Homo sapiens: one gene and its partners. Changing the gene in region 7 together with the main gene of any one other region gives a genetic interaction. Each region holds a gene or a part of one and is shown on either strand. Other genes may lie near its edges.

Evidence for each region.
Region 1: changes in TRAPPC12 (region 7) and DCAF7 together harm fitness more than expected from each alone (negative genetic interaction), as found in Homo sapiens cells (one large-scale study listed by BioGRID).
Region 2: changes in TRAPPC12 (region 7) and RAB5C together harm fitness more than expected from each alone (negative genetic interaction), as found in Homo sapiens cells (one large-scale study listed by BioGRID).
Region 3: changes in TRAPPC12 (region 7) and SEC31A together harm fitness less than expected from each alone (positive genetic interaction), as found in Homo sapiens cells (one large-scale study listed by BioGRID).
Region 4: changes in TRAPPC12 (region 7) and SEC24B together harm fitness more than expected from each alone (negative genetic interaction), as found in Homo sapiens cells (one large-scale study listed by BioGRID).
Region 5: changes in TRAPPC12 (region 7) and MAN1B1 together harm fitness less than expected from each alone (positive genetic interaction), as found in Homo sapiens cells (one large-scale study listed by BioGRID).
Region 6: changes in TRAPPC12 (region 7) and SLC33A1 together harm fitness less than expected from each alone (positive genetic interaction), as found in Homo sapiens cells (one large-scale study listed by BioGRID).

The regions. Positions count from the first base shown.
Region 1 is NC_000017.11:63,556,687-63,561,175, reverse strand, and holds part of DCAF7 (DDB1- and CUL4-associated factor 7), read right to left. Parts: intron 1-4,489. UniProt on the Homo sapiens protein: Involved in craniofacial development. Acts upstream of the EDN1 pathway and is required for formation of the upper jaw equivalent, the palatoquadrate. The activity required for EDN1 pathway function differs between the first and second arches.
Region 2 is NC_000017.11:42,148,131-42,152,619, forward strand, and holds part of RAB5C (ras-related protein Rab-5C), read right to left. Parts: intron 1-4,489. UniProt on the Homo sapiens protein: The small GTPases Rab are key regulators of intracellular membrane trafficking, from the formation of transport vesicles to their fusion with membranes.
Region 3 is NC_000004.12:82,863,420-82,867,908, forward strand, and holds part of SEC31A (protein transport protein Sec31A), read right to left. Parts: intron 3,898-4,489; coding exon 3,736-3,897; intron 3,542-3,735; coding exon 3,389-3,541; intron 1,180-3,388; coding exon 943-1,179; intron 1-942. UniProt on the Homo sapiens protein: Component of the coat protein complex II (COPII) which promotes the formation of transport vesicles from the endoplasmic reticulum (ER).
Region 4 is NC_000004.12:109,523,887-109,528,375, reverse strand, and holds part of SEC24B (protein transport protein Sec24B), read right to left. Parts: intron 3,559-4,489; coding exon 3,435-3,558; intron 3,031-3,434; coding exon 2,872-3,030; intron 2,151-2,871; coding exon 1,977-2,150; intron 1,055-1,976; coding exon 944-1,054; intron 1-943. UniProt on the Homo sapiens protein: Component of the coat protein complex II (COPII) which promotes the formation of transport vesicles from the endoplasmic reticulum (ER).
Region 5 is NC_000009.12:137,089,708-137,094,196, reverse strand, and holds part of MAN1B1 (endoplasmic reticulum mannosyl-oligosaccharide 1,2-alpha-mannosidase), read right to left. Parts: intron 1-4,489. UniProt on the Homo sapiens protein: Involved in glycoprotein quality control targeting of misfolded glycoproteins for degradation.
Region 6 is NC_000003.12:155,843,874-155,848,362, forward strand, and holds part of SLC33A1 (acetyl-coenzyme A transporter 1), read right to left. Parts: intron 1-4,489. UniProt on the Homo sapiens protein: Acetyl-CoA transporter that mediates active acetyl-CoA import through the endoplasmic reticulum (ER) membrane into the ER lumen where specific ER-based acetyl-CoA:lysine acetyltransferases are responsible for the acetylation of ER-based protein substrates, such as BACE1.
Region 7 is NC_000002.12:3,385,745-3,390,233, reverse strand, and holds part of TRAPPC12 (trafficking protein particle complex subunit 12), read right to left. Parts: intron 2,615-4,489; 5' UTR 2,611-2,614; coding exon 1,564-2,610; intron 549-1,563; exon of another isoform or gene 321-548; coding exon of another isoform or gene 219-320; intron 1-218. UniProt on the Homo sapiens protein: Component of the TRAPP complex, which is involved in endoplasmic reticulum to Golgi apparatus trafficking at a very early stage.

The DNA of each region.
Region 1 (4,489 bases), on a different chromosome or scaffold from region 7:
CTCCTGCCTCAGCCTCCTAAGTAGCTGGGATTACAGGCACACACCACTACACCCAACTAATTTTTGTATTTTGAGACAAGGTTTCACCATGTTGGCCAGGCTGGTCTTGAACTCCTGACCTCAAGTGATCTGACTGCCTCAGCCTCCCAAAGTGCTGGGATTACAGGCATGAGCCACTGCACCCAGCCTGTAGTGGGGATTACAGGTGTGAGCCATCACGCCCAGCCTGTATGTTTAACATGTAAAATATTTCCTTTTGTTTCAACATTTTTGCCTTGAATTTTATCTGATGTTAATATTATCATGCCTGACTTCTTCTCTATAAAAAGAACTGCTTCTTGCTACTATATGCCTAGTGCTTCTTCATTCATTCCTTTCTGTTTATTCCTCTTTCTGAAGTTCTACTAAGATTTAATTTTTATTAATGTTAGCTTTTTTATTACTAACTTTCTTACTAGGTAATACATACACAAGGCCCAAATTTTGAAAGGCATAAAAGCAAAGCAATTACAGTACAAATTAGAGCCCCTACATCCCAGTCCCTTTCCCTGGAAAAATCAATGTTATCAATTTCTTGTGTATCCCTTCTACACACAACCACATATGGGTGTACATATGTATATGCATATGCTTTTAAAAAACACAGGTGTTTACTCTTCTACATATTTTTCCACCGAATATTTATTTTAAAATATTCCATATCAGTATATGAAAAGCTAGCTCATTCTTTTAACAGCTGCATGGAGGTAGCATAATTTATTCAACAATTTCCCTAATAATAATATTTTCATATTTTTCTTTTACAAATAATGCTAAAATGAATATCCTTGCACTTTAGTCATTTCAACCACATGAGTATAGCTGTAGGATGAATTACCACTAGCGGAACTACCAGGTGGAAAATAATGCCAATTTAAATTTTGATAGCAACTGCATGGGAAAGCTACACATACGTGTATACACACACACACAGTAGATTACCACGGTTTTTTATTTTTCCTAATCTAGCTGAAACTCCATTTTTTTTTTTTCTTATGAGGTTCAGTTCTTCATACGTTCAAGAATCATTTACATATCCTTTCTGGAAACTCTTCCTATCTATTTCTCTTTTTCTACTGGGTGACTGGTCTCCTGGTGATTTGCAGATCTTTATATGCAGTTATTAAGGGATTTGTTCTTTGTCTAGGACATTACATGTATTTTTTCAGTTTGTCACTTATCTTTTGACTTTGGTTTTGTTACAGAGATTTTATTTTTATATAGTTTACTTCTACTTTCATGGCTTTCTCACACCAAGATTCTCCCGTGTTTTACAGTTATATGTTTACATTCTTCCATTTATCTGGAATTCTGGTACAAGGTTTTTTTTTCTTTGAGACGGAGTCCCACTCTGTTGCCCAGGCTGGAGTGCAATGGTGCCATCTCGGCTCACTGCAATCTCTGCCTCCTGGGTTCAAGCGATTCTCCTGCCTCAGCTTCCCGAGTAGCTGGGATTACAGGCACCTGCCACCATGCCCGGCTACTTTTTGCATTTTTAGTAGAGACAGGGTTTCACCATGCTGACCAGACTGGTCTCAAACTCCTGACCTTAGGCGATCCACCCGCCTCAGCCTCCCAAAGTGCTGGGATTACAGGTGTGAGCCACTGCACCCGGCTGGTACAAAGCTTAAGGTAGAGATCCAATTTTTTTTTCTGGTTTCAATACCAATTATTAAAAATATATATATATATATATACACACACATATATATATACGTATATATATACATATATATACATATATATATACATATATATACACATATATATATACATACATATATATACGTATATATATGTATGTATATATATATACATATATATATATATATGGGTCTCACACTGTCACCCGGGCTGGAGTGCAATGATGCAATCTTGGCTCACTGCAACCTCCACCTCCTGGGTTCAAGTGATTCTCCTGCCTCAGCCTCCCAAGTAGCGAGGATTACAGGTGCCCACCACCATGCCTGGCTAATTTTTCGTATTTTTAGTAGAGACGGGCTTTCACTATGTTGGCCAGGCTGGTCTCGAACTCCTGACCTCGTGATCTGCCTGCCCCCGCCTCCCAAAGTGCTGGAATTACAGGCGTGAGCCACTGTGCCTGGCCTTAAAAATATTTTTTCTTCATTTCCTATCACCTTTAGCACAGACTACATTTCTTTTTGTATTCTGAGTTCATTTCTAGACTCTGTTTATACATCAGTTCTTAGAGTATCAAACGATCTTATTTATTATATCTTTGCATTATGTTTTAATATCCATCATTAGTCCACCTTTTCAGAAGTTTTTTGACAATGTGTGCATGTTTGTAAAATTTATCTGTAGAAACAATCAGTTTGCCTGGTTCTAAAAAACCATTATTAAAAATCTGGAGTATTTTTGGCCAGGTATGGTGGCCTATGCCTGTAACCCCAGCACTTTGGGTTGGGCAGGCAGGAGGACTGTTTGAGGTCAGGAGCTCAAGACCAGTCTGAGCAACATAGTGAGACACCTACTGATTAAGCCCAGGAGTTTGAGGTTACAGTGAGTTATACTCACACTACTGCACTCTAGCCTGGGCGACAGAGCGAGACCCTGTCTCCAGAAAAAACAACTGTGGTATTTTAAACAGGGATTACATTAAGTTTAGGGACACTGACATCTTTAGGATACCAAGCTTTACTATACAAGAAAAGAGAATACCTTCCCATTTTTCGAGTATTGTTTTGTGTTCCCCAGCATTATTATTTCCACATAAACCTTACATATGCCTAAGTATATCCCCAAGTATTTATAGCAGCACAATCTACAGTATTTGTACATTCCTAGACATTGCTCCATGGCCTTCTGTCATCAAATGTAGCTAGCCTAATTTCTTTTCCCCTCTTAAAGAGGACTTGATCATTTTGTCTGGGTGTCCAAATAATTCTTTCTTCATCCTTAAAACATAGAAATGTTCCTAGGGATGCCAGGCTCTGTGCCAGGCCTGTAGTCCCAGCACTTTGGGAGACTGAGGTTAGTGGATCACTTGAGCCCACAGTTTGAGACCAGCCTGGGCAACATGGCAAAACCCTGCCTCTACAAGAAATACAAAAATTAGCGGGCGTGGTGGTGTGCACCTGTAGTCTCAGCTACTCGGGAGGCAGAGGTGGGACAATCGATTAAGCCTAGGAGGTCAAGAGTGCAGTGAGCTGGGATCATGCCTCTGCACCCAGCCTGGGCAACAGAGTGAGACACTGTCTCAAAACAAAACAAAACACACGAAAAATAAGATAAATTTTTTAAAAAAGAAATTTTCCTAGGAAATGTTTCAGTGCCAACTGTTCAGTGCCAATTTTTCTTATCACTTCATGCCAATTTGAACTTATCACTTCAAATCTTTGGCAAGTTCAAATCATGCCAATTTGAACTTATCACTTCAAATCTTTACTTCTAAGTTCTTCTTTAACCATATATTTGAGTTTGTTTCATTTCTTTGGTCCTCTTCTTGAGGGACACCAATTATACTTACGTCAGATCTCTTTTACTTTCTGCATCTATTATGTTCTCATTGTTTTCTTCAGTTTCATTTTTCAATCTGTCCTCCCTAACCTTTACTGTTTTCAGCACTGTGTGTTCATCTTTATTCTGTTTCTTTCTTTCTTTTTTTTTTTGACAGTCTCACTTCATCACCCAGGCTGGAGTACAGTGACATGATCTCGGCTCACTGCAACCTCCTCTTCCCAGGTTCAAGTAAGTCTCCTGCCTCAGTGTCCCAAGTAGCTGGGATTACAGGAGTGAACCACTGTGCCCAGCCTTTATTCTGTTTCCAATGTGGCTTTTAATCCTGTGATAATTTTAGTTTTCTCTTCCACTACTTTCCTGTGTGCTCTGCCAGCTGATGTTATATTTTCTCTTTGCCATGCCTTATTTTACCCAATCCTCTATATCTCTGCTTGAAGTTCTGTATTTTCTTAAGTTCTTTGAACTCACAGTGGTAGGACTGACAATTATTTTTCAACCAAGCTAAAGACATCTTTTTAGTATGGGTACTTTATCTGCCACTTATTTTCCATTTCCCCCCATCCTTTCTAATAGCATCTTTCTACAGCTATTGTGCTGATTCCATTTGTTTTGTTTTTTTGGTTTTGAGATGGCGGTCTCGCTCTGTCACCCCAGCGGGAGTTCAGTGGCAAGATCTTGGCTCACTGCAGCCTTGACCTCCTGGGCTCAAGTGATCCTTCCATCTCAGCCTCCTGAGTAGCTGGGACTACAGGTGCATGCTACCACTCCCAGCTAATTTGTTTTTTCTTTTGAGATGGAGTTTCACTCTGTCACCCAGGCTGGTGCAGTGGCACAATCTTGGCTCACCACACCTCCGCCTCCCAGGTTCAAGTGATTCTCCTGCCTCAGCCTCCCAAGTAGCTTGGATTACAGGCACGCACCACCACATCTGGCTAATTTTTATATTTTTAGTAGAGCCGGGGTTTCA
Region 2 (4,489 bases), on a different chromosome or scaffold from region 7:
CTGGGCACAGTGGCTCATGCCTGTAGTCCCAGCACTGGGAGGCTGAGGCAGGCAGATCATGAGGTCAGGAGTTTGAGATCAGCCTGGCCAACATGGTGAAATCCGTCTCTACTAAAAATACAAAACTAGATGGGCGTGGTGGTACACACCTGTAATCCCAGGTACTAGGGAGGCTGAAGCAGGAGAATCACTTGAACCCAGGAGGCGGAGGTTACAGTGAGCAAGATCGTACCATTGCACTCCAGCCTGGGTGAGAGGTCAAGACTCCATCTCAAAAAAAAAAAAAAAAAAAAAAAGAAGTGGGCAGGTGTTTGGTGTTTGCTTTAAGGGCAGGTTTGAATGTCTGCCCTCTCCTTTAACAACTTCAGTAGGGAGCCTACTATGCTGAGTGCCATGCCAGGTCCTAAACACACAAAGATCAAACAGGACCCGATCTGTGCCCCTAAAGGGCTCACCCACCAGAGAATGAGGCAAATAAGGAACAATGAGATAGCAGTTGAGAAGACAGCCCATGTAGGAGACAAGCCCTCAGCCCATTTGGGGCAAGGGAAGGCTTCACAGAGGAAGTGGCATTCAAACTGAGCTTTGAGAGAAAAGTAGGGAGATACAGTTTCCAGGCACGTGAGGTGCAGAAGAGCCTTCTAGGCAAAGTGAACAGTAGGCATTTAGCCCAGAGATGGGTCAAGGAGAGGCTGTATTGAATAGCGATAAGAGCACACCCCATCTCTGCCATTACTACATAGTCCCCCACTCTAACATGGGGATTAAACACAGAACCTACCTCCTGGGGTTGTCGGAGGATTAAAGGAGTCAACACATAGGGCTCACAAGAGTGCCTGGCACATGGCAAAAATAGAAGTTTAGCTTTTATTTGTATTACTGTTCTTATACATAGAGGATGGGGCTATTTAATTGGAAAAGTAATCTCTTACAATACCAAGCTATTAATGCAGAGGATGCCAAAAATATTCCGATTCTCCTCTGCCAAGGTTTTTGCAAGCATGATTACCTGGATTTTGGCACATCCTAGTTTATAAATTCTACCTAAAGCAGTGCTTCTCAAACAGCCCCAACATATGTACCCTTCACTCAAGTCAGGGGAGAGGAAACTCCCAGAAATCTGGGAGTTGAACCCAAAGCAGCTGGCTACAAGCAAAATACTGTCTTTGGCCAGGTGCAGCGGCTCATGCCTGTAATCCCAGCACTTCGGGAGGCCAAAGTAGGAGGATCACTTGAGCCCAGGAGTTCTGAGACCAGCCTGGGCAACATGGCAAAACCCTGTCTCTACTAAAAATACAAAAACTAGCCGGGCATGGTGGTACATGCCTACAGTCCCAGCTACTCAGGAGGCTGAGGTGGGAGGATCACTTGGGTCCACAAGATCAAGGCGGAAGTAAGCCATGATCGTCCCACTGCACTCCAGCCTGGGTGAGAGAGGCCCTGTCTCAAAAATAAATAAATTAATTAATTAATTAAAGTTTCCTGTGTTAGCTTCAATTCATGCAAACTTTGCATTCTAATCTATAATAGTTACAGGACTGTTTTAATATTAAAACGCTTACAACTAAGTAAAACTGAAGTGGCACAGCGTTCTCTTCTGTAAAATGGGAATACAACCCACATCAATTCTGTTCAATGTCTACAAAATGAGACAATTTGTGAAACCATCAAGCAATGTACAAGGCATCCCAGCAGACATTTTGTTTTTGTTTTAGACATGGGGTCTCATTATGTTGCCCAGGCTGGTTTTTTTTTTTTTTTTTTTTGAGATAGACTCTTGGTCTGTTGCCCAGGCTGGAGTGCAGTGGTGCAATCTCGGCTCACTGCAACGTCCACCTCCCAGGTTGAACTGCCTCCCAGGTTCCTGCCTAAGCCTCCCAAGTAGCTGGGATTACAGGCATGTGCCACCACGCCTGACTAATTTTGGTATTTTTAGTAGAGATGGGGTTTCACCATGTTGGCCAGGCTGGTCTCGAACTCCTGACTTCAGGTGATCTCCCAGCCTCAGCCTTCCAAAGTGCTAGGATTATAGGCGTGATCCACCACACCTGGCCCCCAAGCTGGTCTTGAACTCCTGGGATCAAGCGATCCTCCCAAAGTGCTAGGATTATAGGCATGAGCCACTGTGCCCAGCCCCAGCATACATTTGGTACACATGTTGAATCAGAATCAGTGTTGAGGCTGGGCACAATTACCTGAGGTCAGGAGATCGAGACCAGCCTGGCCAACATAGAGGAACCCTGTCTCTACTAAAAGTACAAAAATTAGCTGGGCATGGTGGCACACGCCTATAATCCCAGCTACTCAGGAGGCTGAGGCAGGAGAATAGCTTGAGCCCGGGAGACAGAGGTTGCAGTGAGCCAAGATCACGCCATTGCACTCCAGCCTGGGAGACAAGAGTGAAACTCCATCTCAAAAAAAAAAAAAAAAAAAAAAAAAAAAATCAGCCAGACACGGTGGCTCATGCTTGTAATCCCAGCACTCTGGGAGGCCGATGAGGCGGGCAGATCACCTCACCTGAGGTCAGGAGTTTGAGACCAGCCTGGCCAACATGGTCAAACCCCATCTCTACAAAAATACCAAAAAAAAAAATTAGCCGGGCATGATGGCAGGTGCCTGTAATCCCAGCTACTCAGGAGGCTGAGGCAGGAGAATCGCTTGAACACAGGAGGCGGAGGTTGCAGTGAGCCTGGGCAACAGAATGAGAATGAGACTGCCTCAAAAAAAAAAAGAACCTTCAAACCCCTACCTACCCATCAGAGGCAACTGCTATTTTGTGGGCATCCAGTCTGCCAGCACTGGACTAGCTCCTTTCTTTGTTTCTAATTCTGCAAGGTATTTAGCATCCCCATTTTACCAGAAGAAACACAGGCTCAGTGAGGTCAAGTAACAAGCCCAGGGTCACACAACTGGTAAGTGGGGGAATCAGGATGAGAACTCAGGTCCAACTGCCTCTGAAGTTCTAGTGCCTTCCACCCGACCACACTGCCTGTTTACTGGGCAAGGGTTAGAAGTAGAAGGTCTGGCCAGGCGCAGTGGCTCACGCCTGTAATCCCAGCACTTTGGGAGGCCAGGGTGGGCGGATCACGAGGTCAGGAGATCGAGACCATCCTGGCTAACACGGCGGAACCCCATCTCTACTAAAAATACAAAACAATTAGCCGGACGTGGTGGTGGGCACCTGTAGTCCCAACTACTCTGGAGGCTGAGGTAGGAGAATGGCATGAACCCGGGAGGCGGAGCTTGCAGTGAGCCAAGATCGCACCACTGCACTCCAGCCTAGGCGACAGAGCGAGACTCCGACTCAAAAAAAAAAAAAGAAGTAGAAGGTCTAAGAAGTACTTGCTTGGTGGGGCTGAATTTAAATGTATGATCTTGCTCTGTTTCCATGTAAATTCTAGTGACAGGAGCTCCTGGTGGCAAGCCACATTCTTCCCACTTGCAAGCAGCAGGCAGCACCACAGGAGAAACAGAGGACTAACCAGAGGCCCGCTCTGTTGCTTCCCCCTTAACCCTGCCCAGTGGGACCCCTGAGTTTACTCACTTTAACTTTCATTTTCTAGCCATTAGGACTTTCAGGTTCCCAGAAAAATTAATGACATGTAGATGTCAGCAAACTCTCAGGCCCTGAAGAGTACTGACTTGGGACTCCTAACTGTTTTGGTCCTCAGAGGCAGAGGTGAAAGGGGTCAAGAGAGAAGACAGGAGGTCGGGTAGACGCTGGGGAAGACAAAAAAACAGAGGAGCGCTAGTGATGAGGAGGGCTAAAGAGTTAAGAGTCTGCCCTTGTGCCGTGGCGCACTCAGTCTGCATGTTCATTCATTTAACGAACAAACCAGGCCGAAGAAGGGCCCACTGTTAGATCAGGTCACATCTGACCCCAAATCCAAGCCCCAGCTCTACTACTTTCTAAATGTATGATCGATCTTAGGCAAACTACTTAAGTTCCTTCTGCATCCCTTCTAAAGCAGGGACACTTGCCTTATCTTACTCAAAAAAAAAAAAGTAATAATAAAAATTAAAAACAAAGTGGGGAAACAAGCCCCACTATTTCCCAAGGCACCTATGAGGAATATGTATGAAAATAATTTTGCAACCTTAAAATGATTTTTAAAAATTAGTGTTACTGTCCCTCTACAGTTTAACAGCCCTCTAATTGTGAGAGGCAAGAGGGCAGGGGAGGAACAGCATCAGAAAGGAGGGGTTCTGTCGCACACGGAGCCATCGCTCTCTCTGCCAGGCAGAGTCAGACCTCTGCTTGGACTCTATAATTTCTAGGTGCCAGAAGTGGCTGCATAACGACCCAAAGCACTGGGGCCTGCCTCGTCTCTCTAAATGGCAGAGCTTCCCCTTCAAAGTCGTTTCAGGTTGGGTGCAGTGGCTCATGCCTGTAATCCTAGCACTTTGGGAGGCTGAGGTGGGTGGATCATCTGAGGTCAGGAGTTCGAGACCAGCCTGGCCAACATGGTGAGACCCCATCTCTACTAAA
Region 3 (4,489 bases), on a different chromosome or scaffold from region 7:
ACAAAGACCTACATTTAAAGGCCGAATTTTTATAAGAATGAATCAAATTCCAAAGAGAATTATTAAAAATATCTGAAGTCTACATTCTAAAGATTCACTGTTTGAAGGAATCCAAAGAATAGTGGGTTTTTTTGTTTTTTATTTGGAGACCCAGCCTCAGGAGGTCCTGAGAACATGTGCCCAGAATTATTTTTTTAAATAAGTTATTTATTAATAGTAAATATACTAGTAATTAATTATCCTGGTTGAATAAAGCTTACTTTTGAACAGTAATTTCTGTAAATACAAACTTATGTCCAAAGGTTAAACTGATACAAAACTCAAACTATGTGGAATATTCTATGTCCTAAAATTCTTTCCCAAAATTATTACAAAATATAAATTCTTTAATTTTATACTTTAACCTAACTGTATTCAAGACTGCTTTACCTTTGAAAAACCAGTACCGTATAAAGAAACAGACATTCCAGTGGAGGCAAAATGACCAACCAGGAAATTCTATTTGTTATTCTAATCTAACTCCTCTTAAAGTAAAAGGAAAAATGCCTCCAACCTCTCTCCTCTATTCCTCTTCCTCTTTTTTCATTTTCCTTAACTAGATCTACTATAGATGTTAAATATTCTGTTTTCATTATAGTAAACTCTATGTACTCATCTTCAAAATAGGTGTGCTGACTATGTCGCTCTCCTCTAAACAGACCTATTATTATTTTTTTTTACTTATTAAAAATGTATTTCATATTACACTTTTCAAAGCAGAGAAGGAAAAACTCTGGACATAAGTTAGGTTGTATGCTCTTTATAAGGCTTCTTAATTTCATGATGAATTGCTGAAATCACACTTTTTCAATTGTTTCTTTAATAGGAGGACAGATTTAGAATATAAAGGAACAGTTAAATTTGCAGATAATGAAATAATATAGCTTTAAACAGCAACTTTACCTTCAAAAAGGACCACACATTTTTCTCAAATTCAGTCTGAGAAGCATCAATTTTTTTTTGGCAATAATTGATAAATCCTTGTGACTGCACAGCCTGCTGAAGTTGGTCTGATCGGCTGAGGAACTCCTTTTCTGTTACAACCTGACTAATGAACACATGGTGCTGCTGCTGCTGCTGCTCAGCTCCCTGATGAGAAGGCATTCTGACATTCTCAAACGTAACCAGTTTGCCTCCAAACTATAAAAGAGAGAATGAACAAACTCAGTGTTAACCCAAGGATATGGCCAAAAAAAGTGCTTATAAAGTGGCCTAAACAGATAATCTGGATGAAATTAGTTGATACAACCTCTCATGCGCCACAGTCTGACACCACTTCAATTTCTGTTCTAGATGAAATGTACTTTTTTGGTTTTTTGGTTTTTTTTTTTTTGAGACAGAGTTTCGCTCTTAGTCACCCAGGCTGGAGTGCAAAGGTGGGATCTTGGCTCACTACAACCTCTGCCTCCTGGGTTCACGTGATTCTCCTGCCTCAGCCTCCTGAGTAGCTGGGATTACAGGTGCCGGCCACCATGCCTGGCTAACTTTTGTATGTTTAGTAGACAGGGTTTCACCATGTTGGCCAGGCTGGTCTTGAACTCCTAACCTCAAGTGATCCACCCAGATAGAGAAGACCAGATAGGACGATGAGAAGATTAAGCAGATCCAAAGAACAGACTTACGAGTGACATAAAACATATTCAAAGGTCCATTTTAGGAAGATTAATCTTGGAATATGTAGTAGAGATTAGAGGGGGAAAAGACAAGCAACAAATATGAAATCAAGCTATTAGAAGTTTGGCATGAAAGAATTAGGCAAGGTATCAGCAATGTAAAAGGAAGAAACAAACAAAAAGTGCTAGAGAGGATGTGGAGAAACTAGAACCCTTGTGCACCACTAGTGAGAATGTAAAATGGTAAAACGGCTATAAAATGGTATGGAGGTTCTTCAAAAACTTAAAAATAGAACCATCCTATGATCCAGCAATCCCACTTCTGGGTATATGTCCCAAAAAACTGAAAGCAGGATCCCAAAATGATAATTACAAACCCATGTTCACCACAGCATTTATTCACAATAGCCAAAAGGTGGAAGCAACCAAAATGACCATCAAATGAATGGATAAAAAAAAATGTGGTATATATATATATATATATATATATATATATATATATATATATATATACAATGCAATATTATTTGGCCTCTAAAAAGAAGTAAATTCTGTCACACTACAACACAGATAAACCTTGAGGACATTAAGCTAAGTAAAATAAGCCAGCCACAAAAAGACAAGTACTGCATGATTCCATTTATATGAGTAATTTAAAGTAGAAAACTCCTAGCAACAAAGTAGAATGTGGTTACCAGGGATTCAAGGGAAACAGGAAATGGGGAGCTGTTGTTCAAGGGCACAGAGTTTCAGTTTTGCAAGATGAGAAAGTTCTAGAGATCTGTTGCACAACAACGTGTATATAGTTAACACTACTGTAGTATATATTTAAAAATGGTTGTAGTGTATATTTTAAAATGGTTAAGATAGTAAATTTTATATTATGCATTTTTTACAATTAAAATTTTATATTATGCATTTTTTACCATTAAAAAAAGCTGGCAATTAAAAAAGAAAGCTAAAAGGATGAAGAAGAGGGAGGACACTCCCTGCAAAAAGAAAAGAAAAAAAGAAGAAAAGAAAAGAAAAAGAAGGGAGGGAGGGAGGGAAAGAGAGACAGAGGGAGGGAAAGAGAGACAGAGAGAGAGAGAAGGAAGACAAATTTAAAAGGGAGGAGGGCCGGGTGCAGTGACTCATGCCTGTAATCCCAGCACTTTGGGAGGCCGAAGCGGGTGGATCACCTGAGGTCAGGAGTTCAAGACCAGGCCAGTCAACATGGTAAAACCCCATCTCTACTAAAAATACAAAAACCAGCCAGGTGTGGTGGCACGTGCTTGTAATCCCAGCTACCCAGGAGGCTGAGGCAGGAGAATCGCTTGAACCAAGGAGGCGGAGGTTGCAGTGAGCCAAGGTTGTGCCACTGCACTCCAGCCTGTACAACAGAGTGAGACTGTCTCAAAAAAACAAACAAACAAACAAAAAAATGGAGGAGGGGAGGAATATAAAGTGTTGGCTACACAACAACAATGTAAATGTACTTAATGCCATTGAACTGTATATTTAAAAATGAACAAAATGATCAATTTTATGTATATTTTACCATGATTTTTAAAAAAGGGAAAAAAAAGAGTAGGTTCCAATTTTTCAGAGAAACCATTTTGAATGATGAAATACCCACAAGTACATCTCAAATCCCAACTTAAACCCTGATTGCTTCCATCAGAGTGACTCTATAATAACACTTTGGTATAAAAAGTCCTTTGTGCCTATGGACCATAAAAACAAAATCCACCTACTGAAAAAGAAGCACCAACAGGCCTTCGAATCCACTTGGGCGGCTTCTTCAGAGGCAGCACTATACTATGCTGAGCAGTCTGCTGTGGAATTTGTAACGGAGGAAGGGGCTGTCCTGTGCCAAAGGGATCAAGATTCCCAAAAGATGATGAAAGCTAAAAAAGATAATAATAACATAAGCATCCGACCATACACAAAGTTTCATTTTTTTCCAGTCATATCCAAAAAAATTTTTGATCACAATTGTCCAATTAACCAGCATTGTTAATCAGTGAAGTCATTTCAAAATATTACACAACACATACTTTTTTCAGGCATTATAATAGAAAACTTTAACACTTCCTATTACCTTGTCAACTTGTTTCTGTCTTAAACCATCTGTGCTACCTCCCATGATAGAATAAACACTGATACGCCCATCAAACGAAGCAGCTGATAAGACAGCAGGATTTCGGGGACACCACTGAATATCGAAGCACCACTGTGTGTTGGTGGGAAGTTCATATAACACCTAGGCCAACAAAAAACAAACAACAAAACTCAGAAAATGGTATGGCCACTTTGTAACCAAAACACCTGAATTAATGTGGTCAACAAGTATAGTTAAATTGAATATTTTTTTGTAGAAAGTATCTTTAGCCAGGAAAAAGAATACTAAGATTTTTTAAAGTGCAAGAATGATCCATTACGATGACCTATTCTGATTAACAGGAATGCAGCTTAAAATTTCAATCAGATTTGAATAAACGCATTTTAAAAACTGAGGCTTTTCTGTGTTCAAAATAATGGATGCATTTGAAAGACCAGCACACTCTATTAGAGTCAACTTTTTTTTTTCTTTTTTGAGACAGGGTCTCGCTCTGTCGCCCAGGCTGGAGTGCAATGGCAGCAGCCTCAGCTCACTGCAACCTCCACCTCCTGGGCTCAAGCAACTATTCTGCCTCAGCCTCCCAAGCAGCTGGGATTACAGGCGCCCATCATCATGCCCGGCTAATTTTTGCATTTTTAATAGAGATGGCGTTTCACCACGTTGGCCAGGCTTGCCTTGAACTGCTGACCTCAAGTGATCCGCCCGCCTTGGCCTCCCAAAGTGCTGGGATTAC
Region 4 (4,489 bases), on a different chromosome or scaffold from region 7:
CGGCTCACTGCAACCTCTGCCTCCTGGGTTCAAAGGATTTTCCTGCCTCAACCTCCCAAGTAGTTGGGATTACAGGGGTGCAGCACCACGCCCAGCTAATTTTTTTCTTGTATTTTTAGTAGAGACAGGGTTTCACCATGTTGGCCAGGCTGGTCTTGAACTCCTCACCTCAAGTGATCCGCCCACTTCAGCTTCCCAAAGTGTTGGGAATGAGCCCACCTGGAATGAGCTCATTACAGGCATGAGCCACCACACCTGGCCTATGCAGCTTTTTGAGTCTAGCTTCTTTTATTCAGCACAATGTCTTTGAGAGGCATCCATGTTTGTTTAAGTATTGACAGTTCATTCCTTTTTATTGCTGCATTATATTCTATTGTATGAGTGTACCATGGATTGTGCATATATTATTTGAAGGACATTTCAGTTTTTACCACATTTTTAGAGATTATGAATTCCCTCAAAGATTTTGAAAGTAAGATTAAGGAAGAAATGTGAGGACAGTCTGATTCACAATGCAGTAAATAAAAATGTAAAACATATGCTTTTTAAATAAGAGAAAATCCTAGCTTCAGTTTCTTTCTTTCTTTTTTTTTTTGAGACAGAGTCTCACTCTGTTGCCCAAGCTGGAGTGGAGTGATTGGAGTGATGCGGTCTCGGCTCACTGCAACGTCCGCCTCTCAGGTTCAAGCAATTCTCCTGTCTCAGTCTCCTGAGAAGCTGCGATTACAGGCGCCTGCCACCACGCTCGGCTATTTTTTCGTATTTTTAGTAGAGATGGGGTTTCACCATGTTGGCCAGCCTGGTCTCAAACTCCTGACCTCGTGGTCCGTCCGCCTCAGCCTCCCAAAATGCTGGGATTACAGGCGGACGCACTGCCACCAGCCAAGCTTCAGTTTTTAAGATAGAAAAATACATTTCACATGTTCCTTCAATTTTTACTCACCCATGTTTGCCAGAAGGCAGATGGCAGCTTGTACATCCACTCCCGCATATACATCTGCTAGTGAACTTACCACTGGCAAACAAAGTGTATGTACTCTAATTCTCCGCTCACCTAAAAAAAAAGTCATTGAAAATACATTAGATCAAAAAGGAAATAAAGCAAAGCAAACATGTCAAATACTTTTTTTCTTTCTTTCTTTCTTTTTTTTTTTTTTGAGACGGAGTCTTGCTCTGTCTCTTAGGCTGGAGTGCAATGGTGTGATCACAGCTCACTGCAACTTCTGTCTCCTAGGTTCAAGTGATTCTCCTGCCTCAGCCTCCCAAGTAGCTGGGATTACAGGTGCCTGCCACCATACCCAGCTAATTTTTGTATTTTTAGTAGAGATGGGGTTTCACCAGGTTGGCCAGGCTGGTCTGGAACTCCTGACCTCAGGTGATCCACCCACCTCGGCCTCCCAAAGTGCTGGGATTACAGGCGTGAGCCACCGCCACATCCAGCCACAAGTCGAATTTTTATTCAAGTTATTGTTTTGGCTAGATTACATCACCAACAGGATTTTGAGATGTAAAAACCAAGTTTTACAATGAACATTTTTAAAAGAAAATTAAACACTCTCCAAATCTGCAGAGTATGAACATACGCTATATCACTCATTCTAAATTATATCCTATAGAGTAAAATACCAGAAAACTTAACTGTCAAGTAACAAATGAAGGCCTTAATTGCTAAGCAGTTTTTTACTTTTTGGGGCAAGAAATAATACAAAGAATGGCATAGCTGGATTTAGCATGAACTGTTTTGAAACAAGATTCTAAGAATACAAGTCTTCCATAAATTAAAAAAGTGTGCTATTTAAAGATGCAAAAGTGAGAGTTAAAAAAAGAAAGAAAATAACAACATATGTTTGATTAACTAATACAAATTCCATTACTTCCCACTGTGTATTCATTCTTTTTCCCCACTCCACTAAAGGCCATGTGAAAGGAGGGAGGAATTACTGCTGCAGACTATATTTCATTTCTGTTAACATTACCTTTGCTTGATGTATATAATAGGGCTGTTTGAAAACATACTAAGGAAGTATCTGTTAAACTTTCTTCAATTGACAACTGCACCGCAAATCCAGCATCAGGATTGATGTTGGCAAGGGATAACAAATCAGTAGAACGGACAAAGAAGTTACCGTGAAAAGTGTGCATTGAAAGACCTAAAAAGGAGAAAATCATAAAAAATCAAGTTAACAATAGTATCTTCACCTCAAGCTAAAGTTACTTTTTTAAGTCAAAGATGTTTATGATTTTGAATCAAAAGGATAACTGGGGAGTCAAGGTTCAAGCATAGGCAGAGTTTCTAAAATATTAATTCAAAAAAACTAGTGGACGTTATATAAAAGGGAGACTATACATTTCACTTGTATTGACACCTAACCTTATTTACATTTTCTCACATGTGACTTGAAGTCAGACATAATCTGACTAAACATTTAATTTACAAAATTAAGCAAATGAGGGTTATTATATAACTCATCCTAGATTTAAAATAAAGGTAAAATAAAGGATTAAAACAAATATTCACATAAAACCAAGGAAGTGTACATTAAATGATTATGAAGGCAAAGACCCTTACTTTGACAATTCTTATTTAAGATCTTCCCTATTCCTCTAATTCTCCTTCTAAAATCATTTCTAATATAGGCTTTCTCTTAGGTTCTTCTGAGTAAATCAAACATTACTTTTGTCTACTTATTCAAGTTATTTTTAAAAATTGGGCAAGGATTATTCAATAACTATTATCTATTTAAAACATGGTATAGCTAATGAGATCAAACAGTCTTCCATCATGAACAGTCAGAGGTAGTCAATACATGGAATGCTCACTGACTTTGATACAAGTATTTAATATAAAATATAACTTTTACAACTTCATACCTTTAGTACACCTTATTCTCATAACAGCTTCAAACCCAATTTTTCTTGTGAGATACCGTTTTAGGTCTTTTTGTAACTTTTCTGCTTGTGAAGGATTGTGAGTATAGTGGAATGATGGATAATAATAGATGCACCCTGCAGAATACTTGGACATGCAAGCTTTAGAGAGAAATACAAAAAGTATTAGCTATAGAAATAATAATATTTTACTTGTCCAACAGTAGTACAGATTCTACATTATGAAGAAATCTAAGTCATGAGAAAACCTAAGCCATCAAAATAAGAACATACAAATCTGAGAAAACAGTAATATCTATAAAATATATGATAAAGTTTACTGTTGAGCAGAATGGTAAGGGAATCATGCTATCTAAACAAAATACAAGTGACATTTTATATTTGTATAGTGCTTTAAACTTTACTGGTAGTTTTCATAGATATTGTCTATCTAATGCACATGCTTTTCTCCCTAAAATATAGAGAATGCTTACTGAAGAGTTTAGATTTAATTATGCATTAAAAATGTTCATTTAAACAAATGTACCCATGATGACTTTCCTTACCTAGAGAAGCAAGATCAGAATACTGTGAACTTAAAAGGAACAAATCCACTGCAGTTTGCTGTCCCGAGCAATCTAATGCAAGTTTCTTATAAAAATCAGTTGCAGGGCCAAGATGTTGTACCACCTAAGTCAACAGATCATATAGTAAGAGCTAGCAATCTTTATGCTCATATTTTCATGTCATTTTTATAACAAAAAGGATATCCTCTGCCTCCCTACCAAACTAAGAGTTTTCTAAATGTCTAGGCATTTGGTGCAGATTCCCTATGATAATAATAATGATAGATAATCTTTATAAAAAACACTTATGTGCCAGCACTGTTTCACACAAATTAATTTTCATAACACATCTCATATGGTTTTTATCATCTACATTTTCAGACGAAGAAACTGAGGCAATAACTGATTAAGTAACTTGACCAAGATTACATAGATATTGAGAAGTGGATATTGGAATATCAACCCAAGAAATCTGGCTGCAGAATGAGTGCTGTTAACCATTATTAAATATTGTTAAATAACTTAAGAGAGTAAAAGATTAAGGAAGGTGTTTCTTTTGGTATGAGAAGACTTGAGCTGAGAAGGTGACACTGGAGAGAGTCTCCAAGTTCTTAATCATCATACAACATTTCCTAAAAAAAAGTTTCAATCCTCTTAATTACACTGTATGATGATTATATTAGAGCTTACTCTAATATAAGGAATTAAGGATATGAAGGAATATGTAAACCAGAACAGATACTGAAACTTTAGAGTCCTAGGCAGACAGATAGAGAATATTTTTGAAAGTTAAATGAGAAAACAAAACAAATCAAAACAAAGCTCTATCAAAGGATTCAGTAAATATATATCAGCTTCCTGTGTTCAAAACACCACAGTAATTTATAATGGATTGTAATGGGTCAACGAACTAAATGCCAGCTACACTTGTTGATGAGTTTAAAATACATACTTATTTTAAAATTAGCTTCCTTCTCAAATGCAATTTTAAAATACAATTTCTATAAAGGGTGAAATATGGTGCCTTTTTTTCTCTAGCATATTGGTGAAGAATA
Region 5 (4,489 bases), on a different chromosome or scaffold from region 7:
CAAAAAATCAAAAAGTTAGCCGGGCGTGGTGGCACATCCCTGTAATCCCAGCTACTTGGGAGGCTGAGGCAGGAGAATCACTTGAACCCGAGACGTGGAGGTTGCAGTGAGTGGAGATTGTGCCACTGCACTCCAGCCTGGGCAACAGAGTGAGACTCTGTCTCAAAAAAAAAAAAAATCACCATGGGTTCAATGATCACAGTTTTATGATCTTGTAGGGAAGTTCATCTGAGTTTTACTCCCAAATTTTCTTTCCATATGAATTTTAAAATCATCTTTAAAAACAGAGGTTGGAATTTTGATAGGGAGTCAATGGATTTACAGATGAATTTAGGGAGAACTTAAATCTTTTCTCTTTTTTTTGAGACAGAGTCTTGCTCTGTCGCCCAGGCTGGAGTGCAGTGGCGCGATCTCGGCTCACTGCAACCTCCGCCTCCCAGGTTCACGCCATTCTCCTGCCTCAGCCTCCCGAGTAGCTGGGACTATAGGTGCCTGCCACCACGCCCGGCTAATTTTGTTTTTGTATTTTTAGTAGAGACGGGGTTTCACTGTGTTAGCCAGGATGGTCTCAATCTCCTGACCTTGTGATCCACCCGCTTCAGCCTCCCAAAGTGTTGGGATTACAGGCGTGAGCCACTGCTTAAATCTTCACAGCAGAAGAATAAAATGTCTACTTATTTAGGTCTTTTCAAATACCTTGAGTGTTGTACTTTTATTTATACTGACTTTATATATTTTAGTATCAGGATTACTCCTACGGACTTGGTGGCATTCTTTTCTTGTGATTGTGATGGAGATCACTTTTCTTTTCTTTTTCGAGACTGAGTCTCACTATCACCCAGGCTGGAATGCAGTGGTGCGAACTCCGCTTGCTGCAGCCTCCACCTCCCAGTTCAGGCCTCAGCCTGCTGAGTAGCTGGGATTACAGGTGCGCACCACCACGCCTGGCTAATTTGTGTATTTTTAGTAGAGATGGGGTTTCACCATGTTGGCCAGGCTGGTCTCAAACTCCTGACCTCAAACCTCAAGTGATCCGCCTGCCTCGGCCTCCCAAAGTGCTGGGACTACAGGTGTGAGCCACTGCAACCTCCTGAGATCTCTTTTCAATAACATTTTCTAATTGATTACTGCTACTATATAGCAAAGTTCTCTAAAACTAATTTCTAAGCCGGATGAAGTCATAAGAAGCATACTTGGTAAAGGATGAAATATTCTAACTCACAACAGTCATACTAATAATAAAGGGAATACCAATAATAAAGGAAAATATAAAAGTCCTAAGACTCATCAAAGGACACGGACAGCTTCCGGGATGGGAGCACATAGGGCCGTTCATCACCTCTCCCCTCCTGTAAGTGTCCCTGCTTCTAGGCAAGACACACAAGCATCCACGAAAAGCAGGCGCCAGTTTCTGACTGTTGCATTGGAAACATTGCCGACACGAGAATGCCCAGTGCTGCCATGGCACCACTGACTGCTACTCTCAGCACCGTAGCAGGGGAAGCAAATTCGGGAATAGTTTGTCATGATACACGTCATAGGACATCAAAATCTTCACAACCTTTAACTCTTAATAGTTTACGTACAACGGATGTAATGGGGACATTTACAAATGAAGAAAGAATCAACAGATAAATGATTTAGAAAATGATGGTTTATCCAAGCAATGGAGAAGAGCTATAAAAATCTGTATGAAAGGGAATATTCTCATGTGCATAAAAAAAGAAACAGGGACCAATCCAGCCCCTAACCCTCAATTACGTACACACGTGTGTATCCAAATACCAATCCAGCCCCTAACCCTCAATGATGTATACATGTGTTTATCCAAATAAAATTATTATTATTATTTTTTGAGACAGGGTCTCCCTGTCATCCAGGCTGGATCATAGCTCACTGTAGCCTCAACCTCCCTGGCTTAAGCGATCCTCCCACCTCAGCCTCCCAGGTAGCTGGGACTATAGGCATGTCGTGCCTGGCTAATTTTTTTTTTTTTTGGTAGAGATGGTGGTCTCACCGTGTTACCCAGACTGGGCGTAAGCAATCTGCCTGCCTTGGCCTCTGAAAGTGCTGGGATTACAGGTGTGAGCCACCATACCCAGCCACATAAATTGAAAGACATATACCAAGTGTTTCAAGAGTTGGACTGGGAACAGGGGTAATGTGTGGCTGTGTATTCCCCTTTATACCTTCTCAATGTTCCCATTTTCTCTCCTAAGCCCCTATAACATTTGAAATCAGACAGGTGTGGTGTCTTATGCCTGTGATCCCAGCATTTCAGGAGACTGAGGCAGGAGGATCACTTCAGCTCAGGAGTTGGAGACCAGTCTGGGCAACATAGTGAGACCTCATCTCTATTAAATAATTTTAAGGCCGGGCGTGGTGGCTCACGCCTGTAATCCCAGCACTTTGGGAGGCTGAGGCGGGCAGATCACGAGGTCAGGTGATCAAGACCATCCTGGCTAACACGGTGAAACCCCGTCTCTACTAAAAATACAAAAAATTAGCCGGGCGTGGTGGCGGGCACCTGTAGTCCTAGCTACTCAGGAGGCCAAGGCAGGAGAATGGCATGAACCCGGGAGGTGGAGCTTGCAGTGACCTGAGATTGCGCTACTGCACTGCAGCCTGGGAAACAGAGGAAGACTCTGTCTCAAAAAAAAAAAAAAAAAAAAAAATATAAAACAAAAAAATTTGAACTCAACCAAAGTAAAACGTTAACAGAAAGGGATCTGGCCTAAACACAGCCTCATCCCTAACCAGGTCTAGACAAGTGCCAGGGTCTGAACAGGAGAGGCAGTGCAAGTGATCCCTGGAGGGCAGGATGTCTCCAAGTCAATGCTTGAGAAAGACAGAAATATTCACCATCCACCACCCCAGCTGCTCCTGGACACTAGGTGCTGGCTTATGGGTCACTTGTGAGTGGTGGAAACACATCTTTCAATGGAAAAAATACCACAGTCTGCTCTCAGGCAGTTACGATACTCCATATGCAAAGGAGACGAAGGACCAAAGAAGGAAAGGAAGCACCTGTCGGCTTTCCAGTCAGGAAAATTCAATTTGTAGACAAAGACCTTGGTCAAAGGCAGAAATCCTCACACCGAAGAGTGTGGAGCAGTGGCCCCATGGCCAATCAAGAGCAGGACTCTCCCATCAGGCACGGCACCTTCTAGGGGCCAATTCCCACCCTACACCCTCTGCCCGGCTAGACCACCCTTGGAGAAGCTGCTCAGCGACAGGAATGCTGCCTTTGAAAGGAGAATGTGGGTTTGCTTCCTTCTGCTTTTTGGTACTGTCCATCCCCTCTCTATTGAGCTTATAGAAATTTTAAAAGGACACATTTTCTTGTTAAAGAAATCAAAGGGCCGGGCATGGTGGCTCATGTCTGTAATCCCAGCACTTTGGGGGGCTGAGGTGGGCAGATCAAGAGGTCAGGAGTTCGAGACCAGCCTGACCAACATAGTGAAACACGTCTCTATTAAAAATACAAACGTTAGCTGTGCGTGGTGTCGGGCGCCTGTAATCCCAGCTACTCGGGAAGCTGAGGCAGGAGAATCACTTGAACCCGGGAGGCGGAGGTTGCAGTGAGCTGAGATCACACCACTGCACTCCAGCCTGGGCGACAGAGTGAGATTCCGCCTCGAAAAAAAAAAAAATCAAAACACCCCCACGGCAGTCTGAGGGTGGCCCAAGCTCATGGGGGCCAATGCCCCAATGCCCCTCTTGCTGAGATCCTTAGCCAGTGGGCAGCAGCCTGCCTCCAGCTCCCCAGCCCAGGAGCTGTTCCTCGGCAGGTTACCACTCCCAAGGCCACTGTTAGAAAGCGCTGTCTGTCCCTGTCACAGCCCTGCAGGGAAGTCCACCTGGCGCTGAGGACTCTGGCCACAGGTGAAGCTCCCAAGGCACTCCCACACCTGCTAGACACAATCACAGATGTACCAACAACAGTAACTAACACCCTAAGGGCCTTCTAAGGGTTCCGAGCAGCCACACCAGAGTCAGCACCACCCTGGTGTTCTCAACGGTGTCGGGGATTTGGCTGTTCTTCCTGAACCAAACCTTCACTGACAGGACGTTTTCCTGGTTCTCCAGCTGCCTCCTGACCCATCCCCAGTCTCCACTCCCCCTGCCCTCCTCCCTGACCCCAATCTTCTCAGCCTGGTGGTGCCCAGGACTAGGCCTGGCCCCTTCTTCCAACGTTTCCAGAGGACACAAACCACCTATACCTAGGGACTCCTAAAACCTGTCTCCCCTGGCAGACTCTGATCCTGGCACCACCTGCCCACCAAGGTCTCCATGGCGCCTCCCAGACATCTCACAGTGGGCAGATCCAAAACGGAGCTCCTCAGTGTCCCCAAGCCAGAGCCTGCACAGCCTTTGCTGGCCCCTCCACCCGGGGACTCACCCTCCTTCTCCCAAGGCCCACTCCTGCGGAGCACTCCTCCCCCCACTCAGCTTTTCCCACGGCCAGGCAGCTCTCCTGGCCTCCTGC
Region 6 (4,489 bases), on a different chromosome or scaffold from region 7:
TTATTAGATAACCCTGTCTCAGTTTCTTCATCTGTAAAAGAAGATTTGGCTAGAAAATCCTTGCATTATAGCTCAAACATTCTAGACTTGTGCTCCATTTTAGATGCTTTTACTTTTTATTTTATGGTGTATGTGGCACAACTGATCAAGGACCCTAAGTCACCTCTTCTCAAAAACAATTAGAATATTCTTCAGTCAGGGTTTTTCCTTAGATTGAATCTTGCTCTTGCTGCTGTGCTCACTGAAGGTGATCACTACAGTTTGAACCTCACTTACGAGGCAGAAAGACAGCATTATTTGTTTAGATCAATTTCGCCTTGGTATTTAAATATTCCTTTCTTATATGTTATCTCATTTGATTCTCATAGCAAACAGGATAGGCTAAGCATGTGTTATTATTAAATACAGACGAGGAAAAGAAACTCAGAATACTTAAATATTTACCAAAGGTAAAAATCACTAAGAGGCAGAGGCAGAGGCAGAACTTGAATCTCAACCTCCTGAAGTTGAGTCTTACATTCTTTTCATAATTTTACACTGCCTACATAAAGGTATATATATATATATATATATATATATATATATTTTTTTTTTTTTTTTTTTTTTTTTTTTTGAGACGGAGTCTCACTCTTGTCAGGCTGGTGTGCAGTGGTGCAATCTCAGCTTACTGCAACCTCCACCTCTCGGGTTCAAGTGATTCTCCTGCCTCGGCCTCTGTAGTAGCTGAGATTACAGGCATGTGTGCCACTTTACCCAGCTAATTTTTGTATTTTCAGTAGAGACGGGGTTTCACCATGTTAGCCAGGCTGGTCTCGAACTCCTGACCTCAAATGATCTGTCTGCCTTGGCCTCCCAAAGAGCCAGGATCACGGGTGTGAGCCACCACGCCCAGTATAAAATAACATCTTAACATAATTTCTAGCATTTTGGAATCTGGTTCGAAAGGAATGAACAATAATGTATTAATAACATTATCCTTATAAGTGAGGCTAATGTCCACTTTTTTTTAAGTAATAAATGTTTAATCAAATAATTTTACATATTATTAACAGCATTCACTTGGCATGTCCACTATTTTTGCATTCTTAATTCCATCTGCAAAATGAGATGAATAATGACTTCTTTAGAGTTTCACGTACAATACTATTCTCATTGAGCAGGGTTTTGGTCATCATCTGTTTTAAAACAGTTGTTTAACAAGCCCTGAAAAAAAAATAATTTTCACTGTCACCAAAATTCCAATTAATGTTAAGCGAAAAGTAAAAGTTTTCCAGTTATATAAGACTTAAGTAGTTCCATTTTTCTAGGCAAAAGAATTGTAAATTTGTTTAGCATAGTCTACCAATTTTAATAAACACAGTCCATCTAAAATTTAAATTCCTTGATACCAATACCAAGAGAAAAAAGAAGAAGAAACTACACAGGTTTCAGCAATGTTTGCAGATAAGATTATTTCTTTTTTTCTTTTTTTGAGACAGGGTCTCACTCTGTCACCCAAGCTGCAGTGCAGTGGTGCAAACTTGGCTCACTGCAGCCTTGACCTCCTAGGCTCAAGTGATCCTTTTGCCTCAGCCTCCCAAAATGTTGAGATTACAGGTGTGAGCCACGGTACCCAGACAAGGATATTTCTAATTTCTTTGTGCTTTGAGGAGAAAATACATAAAAAGAAGGAAGTAGTGACAATGGGTCAGTCACAAAGCCCTAATTCAAAGGGTTTCCATCTCTCGCACATGCAGAAGAATGAAAAAGCCAATAGTTCAGAGAGGCCAGGAAATATATTAAGAAGTTTTATGAACACAATTATCACAAATCAGACCAATGTTGATAGATGATAGCCAGTAGTCTTATTAGACTTATTAACATTGCTTTGATGCTAGAGACATCCATAGCCTGTTATGCCAACAACCATAAAGAAACATTACTACCAAAAACATGGAAATATTTCATTATTAACATTTTGGTTAATTTTGATTTATGTATTTTATCATTATTACCAAAAATATGGAAATATTTCATTATTAATATTTTGGTTAATTTTGATTTGTGTATTTTATAAACTTAAGCATACATGGTATATAAATGTATGATCAAGATATCAAAGCTGATGTTCAAGTTTCATAAACATGATTTCCGAGTAAAGACCTAAAAAACAGACTAAATATTCTGAAGTGGCTGCAAGATCTTGTCCAGTGCTTTCACGAATGCAGAAATTAAGAGCATGTAACAATTCATTAGTAACCAATAAAGGTACAATAGCTCGCACCTGAGTGTCTATTATAAGATCTGGGAAAAAACAGAGGACATCTCATTTAAATCCCAAAATCACTTTCCAAGATAGGCATTATTACTCCTACTTTATATACAAGGAAACAGAATCACAAGCCAGAAAGTGCCAGAAATGGCATTCAAACTGCGGTCTAGTTCTAAAGCAAGAAATGTTTTCCATTATGTCATCCAGATACTCAGATACACCCACAGCAAGTAAGCTCTCTTTTCTATCAACTGGACACCACTGAGAAAAAAGGTTCATATTTTAGCTCCAACCATGAGGTCTGGAACATAGATATTTTCCCACACTTCCTTTTTTTTTTTTTTTTGAGACTGAGTTTCGCTCTTTTTGCCCAGGCTGGAGTGCAATGGCACAATCTCAGCTCACCGCAACCTCCACCTCCCAGGTTCAAGTGATTCTCCTGCCTCAGCCTCCCAAGTAGCTGGGATTATAGGCATGCACCACTACCCCAGCTAATTTTTGTATTTTTAGTAGAGACGGGGTTTCTCCATGTTGGTCAGGCTGGTCTTGAACTCCTGACCTCAGGTGATCCACCCACCTCGGCCTCCCAAAGTGCTGGGATTACAGGCATGAGCCACCGTGCCTGGCTCCCTCACTTCTTTAAACTGACTACTTGTATTCCCCCTTCTCACCTCTGTCTCCCCATATGGTGATATGCCAAAGGAAATTCAAATGCACAGGATAAACAAACTTGGTGTGTCTTCCTAAAGAATTCATTTTATTCAATAAATTATAGGGAGATTACTTTAATGAGAATAAATAGGCTGGGCGTGGTGGCTCATGCCTGTAATCCCAGCACTTTGGAAGTCAGAGGCAGGTGGATCACTTGAGGTCAGGAGTTCAAGACCAGCCTTGCCAACATGGTGAAACCCTGTCTCTACTAAAAATACAAAAAGTAACCAGGCATGGTGGCACATGCCTGTAATCCCAGCTACTTGGGAATCTGAGGCATGAGAATCGCTTGAATCCAGGAGGCAGAGGTTGCAGCGAGCCGAGATTGTGCCACTACACTCCAGCCTGGATGACATGGCAAGACGCTGTCTCAAAAAAATAAAAAAGGAATACAGTTTGTTTTTCTGAGAATGTAGGGTAACATTTTAAGCCTAGACATGAATGCTAAAGAATGTATTATAGCCTATGTAAGAATACCTGGTCTATCTAGAAATGGGTCAATTAGTCTTTTCCAAATTCTAACAGGCATTTTGAGTCATATAAATTATGTGTTCTGAAAGCAGGACAAAGAAATTTGTCATCAGGTAGGAATTAATAGTCCTGCTTTCTAATTTAAAGCATCAATGTCGCTGGGCACGGTGGCTCATGCTTGTAATCCCAGCACTTTGGGAAGCTGAGGTGGGCGGATCACCTGAGGTCAGGAGTTCGAGACCAGCCTGACCAACATGGTGAAACCCCATCTCTACTAAAAATACAAAAAAAATTAGGTGGGCATTGTGGCGTGTGCCTGTAATCCCAGCTACTTGGGAGGCTGAGGCAGGAGAATCGCTTGAACCTGGGAGGCAGAAGTTGCAGTGAGCCGAGATCACGCCACTGCACTCCAGCCTGGGTGACAAGTGCAAAACTCCGTCTCAAAAAATAAATAAATAAATAAATAAATAAATAAATAAAGCATCAATGTCTTACAAATACTGTTTTTATTGTCATTAGTTTGGTTAGATTCATACTTATAGCATCAACTTTTTCAAAGCAACACTTTCTCTCATTTATTCCTGTATGTGCGTGCCTATTTATAAACAAACTGATTTATAAACTCTAATATCTTTAGCTTCCTTCTCTGTCATTAAACCGTCTTGCTCCCTGCTCCTAAACCCAAATACACTGCTCCCTATTCCAATCACTTCTAATTGTTACTACTGCTGCTAGAGGAGAGGGCCTCAATTACCAGTTTACAGGCTAGATCTGGCCTGAAGACATAGATTAGATAGATGACAGATAGAGAGATGATAGATGAGACAGATTTTTTTAAAGATGGGTCTTGCTATGTTGCCCAGGCTGCAGTGCAGTGGTTATTCACAGACACTATTATAACGCATTGCAGCCTCGAACTCCTGGCCTCAAATGATCTTCCCATCTCAGCCTGTCAAGTGGCAGGAACTACAGATGCGTGCCACTGTGCTCAGCTAAAGACATGTTTTTATATGAGCCTAAGAAGTGTTTGTAAAATTAGGAAATAAAAAAGGAATT
Region 7 (4,489 bases):
GGAAACGGAAATGACTCGAGTGTGATGGCAGCAGGAGGCAGACAAATCCTAGGCAGACAGGGGCGGTCCCCGGTGAAACCTGACTGGAACTGAAGACAGTTTAAAGCCTAGCTGCAAGTCCCGGATAAACCCACGTAAGGGACTGAGAACCTTTCGTCCCATGTGGAGCACTTTCCTCTGATTGATTACCCCTCTTCACCTATTTTACATATACCTACCCTTCCCCAACTGGTTTTTTCCACTGTCGTGCCCACCTTTGAGTGGTGACTTTGTTTTAGCCTTCTTTTTTGCATACTCACAATCAGCATGCACCCCTCCATTCTGAGCCCAAAAAAGCCCCTGAGCCAGCCACACTGGGAGAGACACCACCTGACTTTCGGTGGGGGACCACCCTCGCCTCCCCTCTCTGCTGAGAGCTGTTTTGTGCTCAATAAAACTCGTCCGCCCTCCTCACACTCTGGTTGTCGGCATAATCTCGTTCTTCTTGGAGGCAGGACAAGAACTCAGGACTCCGCGGAGTGCAGGTACCAAGACAGCAATAACACTGTAACCCTCCATCCCCCACCCCCTTCGGCTGCCCCACTCAACGGGAAGCAGTGGTCTGTTAATGCGCCCGTTTAGAGCCGTTAAGATGCCCGTTAGTCCGGCAGCAGATGCGGGTCGAAAAGAGCTGTGTGCACGCTGTAACATCCCCTCTCGGGCTTCGGGGTCGCGGTTGTTGCTCTTCGGGCGCCACGGTGTTCCCCTCGCCTGGACGCAGGAGTCCACTGTGGGAGTCACTTGCCACACGCCTGGTCCAGCTACAAGCCCCGTGTGAAGCCTGCTCCTATGCTGGCGGTTGGAGCAGCCCCCGGACCCCTACACTCAGTTGCTCGCACAACCCACCTGCTGGGGGCTGAGAGCACAGTCACCGAGGCCACGGGATATGCCAAAGCGCAAGCCAGGTGCGGCCCGGCAGGCCTAGTGGGCGAACCTGGGCCGAGAGAGGCCTGGGCAGGGGCATCGCCGACCACGGAGGTCTCCAGCTGGCAAAGCGGCACCGAAAAAAACCCTGCATCAATTGTCTTTCATTAGTAGTGAGATCGAACATTTGTATGTTACCATTTAGCTTAACATTTATATATTTCTGTGATTTGTTACTTTTTGGGTCACGCGTATTTTTCTTATTCAACCTATAAAAATTCTACATCGGGCACATTATATGTTACAGGAATATATTTTTCCATATTTTAAAGAAAGAAATGGATTTATTATTAACTGGAGTTCAAATGTCAAATGGATTACAGGACATGGAGAACTGACTGAGAGAATTACGGTAGAACTGTCTGCCTTGGTGGTATTTATTTCTACCTCTCTGAGTAGCAGTCCATTAAATATGTTCTGTTGGGGAAACCAACAGATCCCTAATTACCCAGGGACAGAGGAACACAGGCGCTCACAATGGGATGTTAGGAATTACTGAAAACAAGGCCTTCTCCTTCTCCATCCCTAAAGGGGCACTGTGCGTATCTCACAGACGCAGAGAGGAGGCACGGGCTGCGGAGGTGGGAGACCCGGGCTCACCTGGATGTTGTCGAACCTGAGGCCCGGCATGGTGAGGTTCTCCTTGTCCACGAACACGGCGCCGCGCTGCTGGGTGGCCACGGCCCGCAGGACTCCACGCGTAGCCTCGCCGGGAAGCCAGGCGTCGTTCCTCCGGTCCATCTCGCTCATGCTCAGGGCGGTGGCAAAGGGGTCGTCACTCCCTGCAAACACTGCCTGGATGTGCGCGAAAGGCTCTGGCGACGCCGGGGGCGCAGCTGCCTGGGGCCCTCGCATGGCCACGGGTTCGGGGCGCCCCTCGGTCCCGGGCACAGCGAGGGGAGGCGGGCTGGCGGGGGCCGGGGAGCCCGCGCCGGGATTGCTGACGGAAATGAAGGCGGAGGTAGTAAAGGAGTCGAAGAAGTCCGAGGCCAAGGAGTGGCTGGCGGCCGTGTCTCCGAAGAACGTGCTGAGGCTGGGGCTGGGCTGCACGACCTGGGGCGGTGTCCTGGCCGAGGCCTCGCTGGCGCCACCGAAGCTGGGCGACTTCACCATCTGCGGCTCGAAGCCGTCCCCGGAGGCTGGGGGCGCGCGCTGGCTGAAGATGGTGCACACCGGGACCGGCTCCGCAACGGGAGGCTCCTGCTCCGGGCGCGCGGCTTCGCTGCCTGGGACCTCGCGGGCCGCGTCCTGCCTCGGGGCCCCTCCGCTACTGGGTGCCGCGTCCTCGGGGGCACAGTCGCCGTCGGCCTCGCCGCTGGGACTCGGGGTGCCCGCGGGCTCCGGGCCTGGGTCGCCTTCCCCTCCGGGCTCAGCTTCGTCCCGCACTCGGCCCAGGTCGCCCGCGTCGCCCTCGCTGTTGGGGGAGTCAGAGATGAGGACGCTCTCCATCATGTGTTCGTTCAGCTTGTCCGCGAGAGGACTCGAGCCTTCCGATGCGGTCTCGTTCTCTTCGGATCCAAACTCATCTCCGCCAAGATCGATGGTTTCCTCCTGGAAGAGCAACCCCTGCTCCTCCGGAGGCGCGAGCTGAGGGGGGTGCGGGGCCTCCGGGGCCGGGGTCTCCTCGCCGCCGCCAGCGTCCTCCATGACCCTGAAAGCAAAGACAGAGAGAAGGCCCCTGAGCGTGATCTTCATTCACCTCAACCGAAAAATGAGTATTGCTTATAGATTCAAATGACGCAGACTTCCATTTCTCCAGCTTCTTATCCATGTGCTTTTGATTATGGTAAAATACACATAAAATTGACCACCTTAAGTTCAGTAGTGTTAAGTACATCTACATTTCTGTGCAACCAATCTCCAGAACACTTTTTATCTTGCAAAACTAAAATTCCATCCCCATTAAACATTCCCCCGTATACCCATCTCCCCCGCCTAGAGCATCCACCATTCTACTATAAAATAAGTGGAATCACCCGATAACTGTCTTCCTGTGACTGGCTGATTTTACTCAGTATAAAGTCCTCAAGGGCTATTTATGCTACAGCTTGGTCAGAGTTTCCTTCCTTTTTATGGATGAAAAATATTCCATGGTATGCATACACTACATTTTGTTTATCCAGCTATCTGTTGTTGAACACGTGGGTTGCTCCCATCTTTTAGCTATTGTGGATGCTGCTGCAATGAACGTGGCTGTACAAACAGCTCTTTGAGACCCTGCTTTCAATCATTTTGGGTAAATACCTAGAAGGAACTGCTGGATTATATGGTAATTCTATTTTTAATTTTTTTGAGGCACCAAAAAACTGTTTTTCATAGTGGCTGAACCGTTTGTCATTCCCACCAACAGTGCACAAGCCTTGGAATTCACATCCTTGCCAACACTTGTTATTTTGTTTTTATTTCATAGTAGCCATTCCAGTAGGTGTGAGGTTCCAGCCATATAAACACTACTTCATTCTGAGAGTCAGCTAAGTCCCTCCTCTTCCATGAAGCCCTCCCAAGACTCTTCAATTTGTAATAGTCTCTTGACTTCCCCATGCCGTCCGCCCCTACCCCCGCCCCACGCCCCAGCTCATATTATCTGCCTGACTCTGGAAATCTGATACAGTGCGAATGACATGAAAAATTTAAACAGTAAGAAAACAGCACACTCACTAAGCACTGATGGCTGAAGCTGACAACACAACTAGCTAACATTTATCCGCACATACTATGCCCCTGGCTATATATACATATGCCTGTGTGATTCTCAGAACACCCCTCGAGACAGCTGCTATCACTGTCTTCGTTTCGCAGATGAGGACACTGAGGCCTTGGGAGGCTATGTAAGCCGAAATCACACCGCTAGTGAGTGGGGAAACCAGGACCAGCCAAAGAATGAGACAAAGAGCTCAAACTGTAAAAAAGTATTTGTTCTTTTTCTTGAAAAACTTTTACTTTATGTAGTTTTACTCTCATAGTGAACAAATTCAAGTTAAGGAAATCTAAGAGACTATGATAAAAGATAAGGGATTTTTTTCAGAATAAAACAACACGTACCTTTTTTACTTAAAAAATGACACTTAGCTGATCTCTAGATAAGACTACCCTTTTCTCACTGTCAACACTTCCATCATAGTATTCCCAATGAGTCAGCCTTCCCAAAACATTATTTTAAAGTACATAATCCAAGTTATACATTTTGAAGAAGTTTCCGGTTCAGCCTGGTCAGCTACTAATTCCCTTATACATTCATCCAATAATTGTTAAGTATAAATGAATAAAAAATCCAATGAAAAGGAGTAAAACGTTTTTTTTCCTGCCATGTTTCACCGGGAGCCCGAAGAACAAATTGCCCTAGAACCCCAAAGGGGGAGCCCCCTGTGCATGGTAAGGCTGCTCCTTCGGGTCCTTCCTGTGCAGGGATAGAGGCCGGGCACAAGGAGCAAACAGGCAGCATGAGGCAGTGCCCCCTCTGAAGTCTCCCAGCAGGACTTGAAGGCACTAGCGTGGTCTGCGTATTTTATTTTAGAAATAAGAATTG